3 linked regions of the Homo sapiens genome follow. The protein of the gene in region 1 purifies or fractionates together with the protein of each later gene. This does not show direct contact. Each region holds a gene or a part of one and is shown in the gene's direction. Other genes may lie near its edges.

The links.
Region 2: the proteins of PPP1R12B (region 1) and ANKHD1 purify together in Homo sapiens (affinity purification with mass spectrometry, with the first as the bait; one large-scale study listed by BioGRID). This does not show direct contact.
Region 3: the proteins of PPP1R12B (region 1) and TNKS purify together in Homo sapiens (affinity purification with mass spectrometry; one large-scale study listed by BioGRID and IntAct). This does not show direct contact.

What each region holds. Positions count from the first base shown.
Region 1 is NC_000001.11:202,421,623-202,425,278, forward strand, and holds part of PPP1R12B (protein phosphatase 1 regulatory subunit 12B), read left to right. Parts: intron 1-997; coding exon 998-1,116; intron 1,117-3,656. UniProt on the Homo sapiens protein: Regulates myosin phosphatase activity. Augments Ca(2+) sensitivity of the contractile apparatus.
Region 2 is NC_000005.10:140,506,226-140,509,881, forward strand, and holds part of ANKHD1 (ankyrin repeat and KH domain-containing protein 1), read left to right. Parts: intron 1-609; coding exon 610-752; intron 753-1,559; coding exon 1,560-1,773; intron 1,774-3,411; coding exon 3,412-3,587; intron 3,588-3,656. Other genes in the region: ANKHD1-EIF4EBP3 protein, read left to right, coding at 610-752, 1,560-1,773, 3,412-3,587. UniProt on the Homo sapiens protein: May play a role as a scaffolding protein that may be associated with the abnormal phenotype of leukemia cells. Isoform 2 may possess an antiapoptotic effect and protect cells during normal cell survival through its regulation of caspases.
Region 3 is NC_000008.11:9,709,330-9,712,985, forward strand, and holds part of TNKS (poly [ADP-ribose] polymerase tankyrase-1), read left to right. Parts: intron 1-625; coding exon 626-717; intron 718-812; coding exon 813-891; intron 892-3,656.

The sequences.
Region 1 (3,656 bases):
GACCAAGACTCTGTCTCAAAAAAAAAAACAAAAAAAAAAGGGGTTTCTTCAATATAGTAGGGGTCCAGTAAATGTTTATTGAATTGTTGAATGGATTGAAGTCTAATTTGAATCATTTTTCTTTTTCCTTTAAACACTTCTGAGTATTTGATAGAGCTCCTAGCGTTATTAGAGTTCTCACTGGCCCAAAAGTGACTTGATCTAAAGAAAAGATGAACTAGATTTGAAGTCAAGACTGGGGCTGTACCCTCTGCCATTTACCCGCTATGTGGTTTTGAGAAAATTACTTAATATGTATGAACCTCAATTTCTTAAAGTCATGGTAATAATACCCACATTGCCTACTTCATAATGTTGCCTAAGACTTATGATATAATTTTATGTGAAAGCACTCTGAAAATCAAAAAGGATCTATGTAAGGTATTGAATTATCAGACCTTTCTTCTTCAGAATCAAGTATTCTATTTGGATTTAGAATTTAATTATTTAACATTTTAATATTTCTTCTTAAGTAATTTAGTTTCGTCTTACAGCACAGGAAGATTTCATGTGGATGTCTGGTTGATAGGAGAGTTTTATGGAGGCATAATTTAGGCAGATTTATGCAAATTTTAATGCACACTTTATTCTTCTATTTTCACACCCACAGCACTACTTAATAAGCTCCAGTGTGGCACTGGGAAAGTTTAAGGCTGCATGCCTTCTTTATGTTACTTAGAAATTCTCTTGCCATCCACTGGGAGTGAGAGGATGGGAGTTAGTAATATGAGTGTGAAAGAAATCCTGTTTGTTGGCATTGCTCTAGTCAGGAAATGGGGAAGCCTTCAGTCTTAATTATTGAAGTTTAAGGCACATAGAAATTAATAATGGAATATCTTAACTGAGACCATATTTTAAACTCAAAATAGAGACTTCGCTGTGTATTGAATGCCAGATGCATGGGTAAAATTTATATTAGATTGACAGATAATATTGATCCTGGATCTTGTCTACGCAGGTATTTCATTAATCACGGAGCCAGTGTAGGTATTGTCAATAGTGAAGGTGAAGTTCCCTCTGACCTTGCAGAAGAGCCAGCCATGAAGGATCTTCTTCTGGAGCAAGTAAAGAAGCAAGGTAACCTCATGGATTGGAGGGGGCCAGGAAAGATTCTCAAACACTGCCATTTACAGAAAATAATCCATTTGCTGTGCAGAGCATTTCACTATCACATGACAGGAGAGGATTTGATCTGTCTGCACTGCATTAATCATTAATCCAGCATCATGTATCCTCATAATAACTCAGACAAGAATAGGCCAGATGTCAAAAGGATGACCAATCATTCCTTGTTTTTGCCATTCAGAGGTTGCATACCCATCATACAATTAAGAGTGACCTGATGAGGACTGTGTGTATGCACAGTACTGTGTGTATGCATGGTATTGGGATACAGTGTAAATTTGAGAATTGGCTAAACTGAGTTTGTGACTTTGCATCTTTTCCCTTGTTGAGAGCTAAAAGTGGTGCTGATAAAGATATTTATTGTAACTAATCATGAGAATTAGTATGATAATTTGTTAAGGTGAGGAAGCTAACTTAGAATAATATATTCTAAAAATGCTTATTCTTATTTTATAGTTTTAGGAGAATCGATTTCACAGAATAGGATGGAATTTTTCAACCTGGAAGTCCCTGGGTTCTTTTTCCACCACAAAACTCTGCGGACAAGATTTGTAGTGATTTTTTTTTTTAGTCCTTCTGCTAAACTACCTTACTCACAATCTTGCAGTTCATCCCAGAGGATTTAGCTCCAGTGGTCTTTCCCAATATGAACTTTTAGAACAGTCAGGGCCAATTCTTGCTATGCGCATTGTTTACATATTATCCAAAACTGCTTTTGTGCCACAACAGCAGAGTTGAGTAGTAGTGATAGATTGGATGAACCACAAACCTGAAAATACATATTGGCCCTTTGGAGAAAGTATGCTGATCCTACCTTAATATAGTGATGTTCTAGGTCAGTAACTACTTGCTTTTGCTGCCTTTCATGTATAGTTTTTCTGTCCTATTTTGTTTGTTTGTTTGTTTTTTGTTTTTGAGACAGGGTCTCACTCTGTTGCCCAGGCTGGAGTGCAGTGGTGCCGTCTCAGCTCATTGCAACCTCTGCCTTTCAGGTTCAAGTGATTGTCCTGCCGCAGCCTCCTGAGTAGCTGGGACTACAGGTGTGCACCACCATGCCTGGCTAATTTTTGTATTTTTTGGTAGAGACAGGGTTTCACCATGTTGGCCAGGCTGTTCTTAAACTCCTGACCCCAAGTGATCCACCAGCCTCGGCCTCCCAAAGTGCCGGGATTAAAGGTGTGAGCTATAGCGCCTGGCTTTGTGCGCTATTGAATTGAAGAATTTTATGCTTAGCTTAACCTCCAGCCTCAATCAGTTTTATCTCCTAAGATTTGCTTTAAAATGTACAAACAACTTTAAAAAAATCAGTTTTAAAAAATAGTTTAGATTGGAGCAACCACTTTTTCTGTTTTGATTGCTGACTCTTCAATGAGGGAACATACTCTGTTGAAAGGGGTATTCATATATATGTTTAACTTTCCAGCACTGCTAACACTTCTTTGTGTTTGGAGTACTGATCTGATTTAAATTGGTTACCTCTTCACCCCATCCATCTCCCAAAATCACACAGATAATACTTAGGTAGTTGACAGGTTCTCTCTTTTTTTTTTTTTTTGAGACAGAGTCTCACTGTGTCTCCCAGGCTGGAGTGCAGTGGCGCAATCCCAGCTCATTGCAACCTCCGCCTCCCAGGTTCAAGCAATTCTCATGACTCAGCCTCCCAAGTAGCTGGGATTACAGGCGCCCACCACTATGCCCAGCTCATTTTTGTATTTTTGGTAGAGACAGGGTTTCACCATGTTGATCAGGCTTGTCTCGAACTCTGATCTCAGGTGATCCACCCACCTAGGCTTTCCAAAGTGCTGGGATTACAGGCATGAGACACCGCACCCAGCAGTTTCTCTTTTAAGAGCTGAAAGGGAGTAGACCAAGCACAAAGACTGCTAATGAGTGTAAAACTTTTTGAATGGGTATGTTTGTATTTGGGACATTTTATTATTTTGTATAATGGGGTATGCCTCACCCTAACCCCTTTTCACTGGCACAGATATTGGAGAGTTATTGGCTAAAGGGAGGAACTCTTGGAGTTCTTTCATAATGTTTTTAAGGAAAACAAAATCTGCATTCCCTTGAAAGCAGACAGGTTTTTAAACTGCAGATCACCTACTAATCTGTCCTAGATTATATATCTTCAAGTCAGTGTATTTACCTGTATATGGAAATGAACTTTAGAGATAGTTCAATTTTTAAAGTATATCAATACCTGAAACCAAGATTTTGGATACTCATCCTATGGTATAGTGAGTGGATAGGGACCCAGAAGAGGAATGACAGAGAGGGACCCAGGATATCGGAGTTCTAGCGGCAAGTTCTGTCACTAATGTGTTTTGTGGCTTTGAGCAAGATTCCTAACCTTTCTATTTTTATTTCCTCATCTGTTAAATGAAGATTGTAATATCTATTATATTTACCTTGAAGGATTGTTGGGAAACTAAAGTCATATAACATGTAAAAAGACTTGGAAGTTTATAGCTTTGTACAAATATTATAAT
Region 2 (3,656 bases), on another chromosome or scaffold:
CTGCACGTATTTTAACATGTTCCATATACTTTCTGAGGAATGGGTACTTCTGTTAACTTTTATGGGAATGTAAATGCCCTTTTTTTTTGGCGGGGGTTTGTGGAGGGAACAGGAGGGTGGAGATGAGGTCTCATTATGTTGCCCAAGCTGGCCTTGAACTCCTGGCCTCAAGGGATCCTCCTGCCTTGGCCTCCCAAAGTGCTGGGATTATAGGCATGAGCCACCATGCCTGGCCATAAATCCCCTTTTAAAAAATCTGTTTCTTGCCCTTAAAGCCAAATAAAAATTATCTTAATCCTTACATTTATTCGGATTGAATGAATCACAATTCTAACACATATGAAGTGCAAATTTATTGCCCAATAAATGGCAAATAGAAAGGGTAACATCTTGTTATTGCAGTATAATTGGGATTTCAAAACTCTGAATTCCTGAAATTGAATCCATTTCTCTAGTGTTGATATTTCAATATTTAGGGTCTAATGAAATGTAATTAAAATATCAGATATTTAGATAAGGAAGTTATAAGTCCTGTTTCTTTGTGTTTCCTTCATTATAAGTTGAGCCCTTGGTGTAAACTCTCTTCTCTATCCATATTTTACTTTGTAGGTGGTAGACTTGCTGCTGGCTCGAGGTGCAAATAAAGAACATAGGAACGTATCTGATTATACACCACTGAGTCTAGCTGCGTCTGGAGGATATGTTAATATCATTAAGATTCTGCTTAATGCTGGGGCAGAAATTAATTCAAGGTATTGCCTGTTCATTTTATTGTTCATGTTTAGTAAGTTACTACTTTGGACTTAAATGTCTACCTCTTAACGTTTAGACAGATACATTTTAAATTAAGATAGTACTAAAGTTGCAAAGCCAACGATTATACCTATAATGTGTTTGTTTATAAGTAATCTCAGCTTATTTCAGTAATGTGGCTGCTTATAAAGAGGTCTCATTTCAAAAAGTGTTTTGTTCTATGGCCTACCACCCTAAACGTGCCCAATCTCATCTGATCTCAGAAACGGTATTTTATTTTATATAGTTGGAAATTTATAATCCCTAAATAGGAATTACATTTTATTTTTTAAGTTATTTATTTTTTGAGATGGAGTTTCGCTCTTGTTGCCCAGGCTGGAATGCAATGGCGCGATCTTGGCTTACCGCGAACTCTGCCTCCGGGGTTCAAGCGATTCTTATGCCTCAGCCTCCCAGGTAGCTGGGATTACAGGCATGCGCCACCACACCCAGCTAATTTTGTATTTGTAGTAGAGATGGGGTTTCTCCATGTTGGTCAGGCTGGTCTCAAACTCCCGACCTCAGGTGATCTGCCCTCCTTGGCCTCCCAAAGTGCTGGGATTACAGGCATGAGCCACCATGTCTGGCCGGAAATTATGTTTTAAATTGTGACATTTTCTTATTCTTTATTATTGGTCGAAACAAGTAAAATCTATTCATTGATGTTAGAAACCTCTCTTTTTAGTGAAACCTTTTCATCTTTAATGCTTTTCTAAAATAATAGGCAACATATTATTTTAATTTTCTAAGCACATTTCCCCCTTTAGGACTGGGAGTAAACTAGGTATTTCTCCCCTGATGTTGGCTGCAATGAATGGACATGTTCCTGCAGTAAAATTGCTGCTCGATATGGGTTCAGACATTAATGCCCAAATAGAGACCAATCGGAACACGGCTCTCACCCTGGCCTGTTTCCAGGGCCGAGCAGAAGTAGTGAGTTTGCTTCTGGACCGAAAAGCCAATGTTGAACATAGGGCAAAGGTAAGCATTTTTTACTTGTCAACTATTTCAGATACATTTCTGTAGAAAGAACATGGCATTTTAACGCAAATTGAATATAATATTTTAAATTATCATAAATTAAAACTGATACCAATGCAGAGTTGAGGGATTATGCTGTATAATAGTGAGTGACATACTGTCACCATCATGACTTTTATTAAGGACAATGAAGAAAACAGAATTAGTACTTTTCCCAACCTCAGCCTTGAGTAGCTTTCTATTAATACTGCAGCTTACAACTTTTGAATGTAGTAAGATTATTTTGTATTAACTCTTACACTGTAGACTTTTAAAGAACACCTTTAATGAGGTATGTGCTTATCATTGTAAAAATCCCAAGCAAAAATTTAATTCACAAGTTATAAAATTAGGGCAGCTAACATCTAATTTGACCATGGCAGATTTTGACAGTTTCATGACTATTTGGTATTAAGAAAATAGGAGTTAGTGGAGGCTGGGCGCGGTGGCTCACTCCTGTAATCCCAGGACTTTGGGAAGCCTAGGCAGGTGAATCACATGAGGTCAGGAGTTTGAGACCAGCCTGACCAATATGGTGAAACCCCCGTCTCTACTAAAAGTACAAAAAATTAGCTGGACGTGGTGGCAGGCGCCTTTAATCCCAGCTACTCAGGAGGCTGAGGCAGAAGAATCACCGGAACTTGGGAGGTGGAGGTTGCACTGAGCAGAGATCACGCCATTGCACTCCAGCCCGTGCAACAAGAGAGAAACTCCATCCCACCCCCCGCCCCCACAAAAAAGAAAGAATAAAGGAGAAAAGTCATAAGATAATCTCCATAGATGCAGGAAACACACACAGAGGAAAGAAAATAGGAGTTAGTATGTCATTGGCTTGAATTTCTTTGCTTAGAACTGCAAGGTTCTTAGAACTCTGGAAAGACGTAGGTTGGGTAGAATTTTTAATAATTAGTCAACAGAGAATCTAGTGCTCATTTGAAATTGGAAAGATTTGACTGGAAATCTCGTACTTCTTCCCTGAAATTCCTTTTACTTCTTAAAGTTTAGTGCAACATTTACATTCTTTTAATCTAAGTAATGAGGAAGTGTAGTTTTTCCTTGGCTTTTTACCACACAAAGAGAAATGAGTCTTTCCTGTCATTCAATTTGTCTTTTTCTATTACAAGTATTCATTGTGTGCCACTCATCCATTAAAGGTCCTAGAGAAATCTGTGTTATTTTGGATAGTACCAGTAGGAAATGTCCTTTGAAAAAATGTTGGAGACTAACGTACCAAAGGCACATATGCAAAAAATTTATAAAGTGATTTTAATCTACTTATTTTTAATATCTCTATTCATTATGCAAAGAAATTATCTGAGTAAATTCACAAAAGTATAGAAGTTACAGAATTGTTTTTAGCATGAGATAACATGTTTTAAGTTCATTCTAGCACGTCTGAATCTAACAATTTCTACTGCTGTTTAGTAAAATTCAAGGCAAAATATTGCTTAGCTCTTTTATGAGAGCTAATCAGAACTAGAATTGTCTTAAAAGTTAATTGCCTCAGGTTTTTAAAGAAATTATGTAGCTTAGTTTTGGTCTACGGAATAGTTAAAAAAAGAAATGTAACTTAGTTGCATAATTTATTGGTTTAAACAGACGGGTCTTACCCCCTTGATGGAAGCAGCTTCTGGAGGGTATGCAGAGGTTGGAAGAGTTCTTCTTGATAAAGGAGCAGATGTTAATGCTCCCCCTGTGCCTTCCTCAAGAGATACTGCTTTAACAATAGCAGCAGACAAAGGTCACTACAAATTTTGTGAACTCCTGATTCATAGGTGAGTACTTTTCTATTATATGTAGAACTTCTCATGGTCATTTTCACTTTTCAGAGCTTTTAAAGTTAA
Region 3 (3,656 bases), on another chromosome or scaffold:
AATAAACCTGACCCACTTTTTTGGAGTTTTCATTTTATTTAGTTGAAAGTAGTTTTTTATTTTTAAATTTTAATACGAATATTAAAATGAAGCAGAATAAAAAAGTTGTATAAATATTATGTTAAAACCTAAAATTTCTGAGAATATTTTTCTCTAAACTGCTTCAGTTCTATCATTTTCTTGCTTATCCTTGGGCATATAAACGTCTCCTGTAGTGCTGGGAGTACCTCTGTAGAAGAGCTTAGAAATACTGACTTGTGTGGCTGATGGCCTAATGAAAGATTGAGTAACTTAGTTATAGATTTCTGTAGCGTTGCAGAGGCATACGTATTATGATGCTCTCCATGGAATATATAGTGAATATTTATTGATTGGCTAAGCCAAAAGAAATAAGATCTCTCTTAATGTTTAAGAGCATAATTTCACCTTGGTTTAAACGCTTACGTTTTGTATTTCCACTATACGTAGAAAGAATATGGATCATCTCTGTGATATAAAACATATACATATGTTCTGATACTCTGAGATAACAATGTTTTAAATGGTCAGCAGATACTGTTCAATTCCAAGAGCTACTGTACATATGGAAGTGTATTTTATTAACTTGGTTTTGTTTACTTTATAGCACTGTGCTGTGGCCTCTCTGCATCCCAAACGTAAACAAGTGACAGAATTGTTACTTAGAAAAGGAGCAAATGTTAATGAAAAAAATAAAGAGTAAGTATAATTGCAGAAGGAGTTGTTCAGTTCCTAAAGAGGAAATGCAATAAAAGAGAGACAATTACCTTTTCTTTCTTTCCTCTTTTCTGTAGTTTCATGACTCCCCTGCATGTTGCAGCCGAAAGAGCCCATAATGATGTCATGGAAGTTCTGCATAAGCATGGCGCCAAGGTGAGGCACACACCTGAGCAGAGTGCCAGACTCAGCACTGAGCAGCCAGCTGCTCTTAACACTGCTTCTCTCTCTCCGATTTTTCTGAAGAAACTAATTTTATAAAGGACTATTAGTTCGTACTTAAATTCATGGATTCTCCTATAAAGCTGATTTAGATCTTGTTTCTAATAAAAATAATTACCCGTGTTTCTTGATCCTTTAATGTCACCCTTCTGTAAAGCAACAAAATATAGCTATAGTCATTTGAAATAGATTTCATCTTTACATTACTTTCAGTTAATACTATACGGATATATTTTGATAGTGTCCACTTGAATAACAGTTTATCAGAAAATAAATTATGTTAAATGATAGCATCAGAATAGCTCTACTTATTCTAAAAAACATTTGTGGCCAGGCACAGTGGCTCACGCCTGTAATCCCAGCACTTTGGGAGGCCGAGGCAGGTGGATCACGAGGTCAGGAGATGGAGACCATCCTGGCTAAGACGGTGAAACCCCGTCTCTACTAAAAATACAAAAAATTAGCCGGGCGTGGTGGCGGGTGCCTGTAGTCCCAGCTACCCAGGAGGCTGAGGCAGGAGAATGGCATGAACCTGGGAGGCGAAGCTTGCAGTGAGCTGAGATTGCGCCACTACACTCCAGCCTGGGAGACAGAGTGAGAATCTGTCTCAAAAAAAAAAATTGTATGCCTTCAGATTTGTAATAATTTTCTCAACCTCTACACTAAAGAAATATGACATATTTAATAATTTTTACTGGCATTTTCTGAATGGTGTAGTCTGAAACTTTGTCAAGCACTTAAGAGAGGAAAGAAGCAAACTGGTTGTTTTTTAGAGGTGACTTGAAATTATAGATTTTTTCATTCTCAAGAATGTATATTTCAAAGCAGTTGTCTCCAAAGTAGGGTATAGACTCCCTATGGAGCATACAAGATGCCCTGTTGGAAAAATCCTAGCATTTCAATTTATAATACTTTTATTTAAGAATAAGGAAATTCAGATTTACCAATATTGAATACAAAGATGATGCCAGCACTCTCACTAGGTCCACGTGTCAGCCATTGTGACTCGTGATGTCAAGGTTTCCTGAGGTAAGAGTGGGACTTGTTAGTATCGAGGGATTGACAGTGGCAAACTCACTTGTTTGTTCCCTTTCAGCATATTTTGGCATAGTGTACTTTACTTGTGTCCAAATGAGTTGAATTTATGGATATTATCCTAAATGGTAGAACTTTTATAAATATCATACTTGATCAGAGTAGTGACCCTGACAAGGGACACAGGGAGTGACCCTGACATGCTTTTATAGTGTAAAAAGGTGGTCTGGTTATTTTGTGAAGTAGTATTTTAAGGTGTTGTCATAGTTGTGTTCTTTTTAATGAAAATAAAAGGGTTCAAAATTTGTTAATAGTTCTCTGAGGACAAATGACCATGACTTGCATGTAGATACCCTTTAAAAAGGAAACATAATCAGATCCTTAAAGGTAAAAGTTACACACTTTAGGTAAATGATAAAATAACTGCTTTTTTAAAAGAAACTTTAAAAAATGAAGAGAACGTTTTGAACATAGATTTTTAGAAAATGTTCACTTTTCTGTGATTTTGCTGAAAAATGATATAAATGAATCACCCAGCCGTCATATCTACATAATTTAAACACATAAAAACAGAATTTTCTCACCTGTTCAAAAGCCTTCCTTAATTTGGTTTTAGGGTAGATTTTGAATCTATTCAAAACATTGTAATGCAGCACTTCCTAATAACTTCGCAAGAACATCAGTAAAGATGGAATTTTACTACAGAATTTCAATGAAAGCCTTAGCATAATTAGTAAATTACATTAAAATTAGGCATTCTGATTGAGTAGGCATAGTTAACAATGCATTTATTTCATTGGCTCCATGAATCTGTATGAAATCTTTGCAACTAATATAGCCATTCAAACTAATTATCAAAAATGAACTTAGAGCCACGTGTAGTGGCCCGTAATCACTCCTGTAATCCCAGAGCTTTAGGAGGCAAAGGCAGAAGGATTGCTTGAGGCCAGGAGTTCGACACCAGCCTGGGCAACACAGCAAGACACTATCTCTACAAAAAATTTAAAAATTAGCCAGTCGTGGTGGTGTGCACCTATAGTCCTAGCGACTCGGGAGGCTGAGGCAGGAAGATCACTTGATCCCAGGAGTTTGAGGCTGCAGTGAGGTATGATCATACCACTGTACTGCAGCCTGGGCAACAGAGCAAGACTCTGTCTCTAAAGAAAAATGAAATGAACCTAAAATTAAACCCTCAAATTCCTAATATCACAATTTTTATAAGTTTTTTTAAATGTTTAAACTACAGTCAATGGATATTTTCTAGCATAAGTAATTAAAATATGTTTTGGACAGGTACCATAGCCTATGCCTTAATCCCAGCACTTTGGGAGACTGAGGTGGGAGGATCGCTTGAGCCCAGGATTTTGAGATCAGCTGGGCAACACAGGCCAACCCCGTCTCTACAAATAATAAAAAAAAATAGCCAGATGTGGTGGTGCATTCCTGTAGTCCCAGCTACTCGGGAGGCTGAGGTGGGAAAATCACTTGAGCCCAAGAGGTCGAGGCTGTAGTGAGCTGTAATCATGCCACTACACTGTAGCCTGGGTGACAGAGCAGTACTCTATCTCAGAAAATAATAATCATGAAATCTTTTTAAATTTTTAATTATTTCATCTCTTTCTCATCCTTCATAAATTCTCTTTGTGTAAGTTTTATAATAGTAT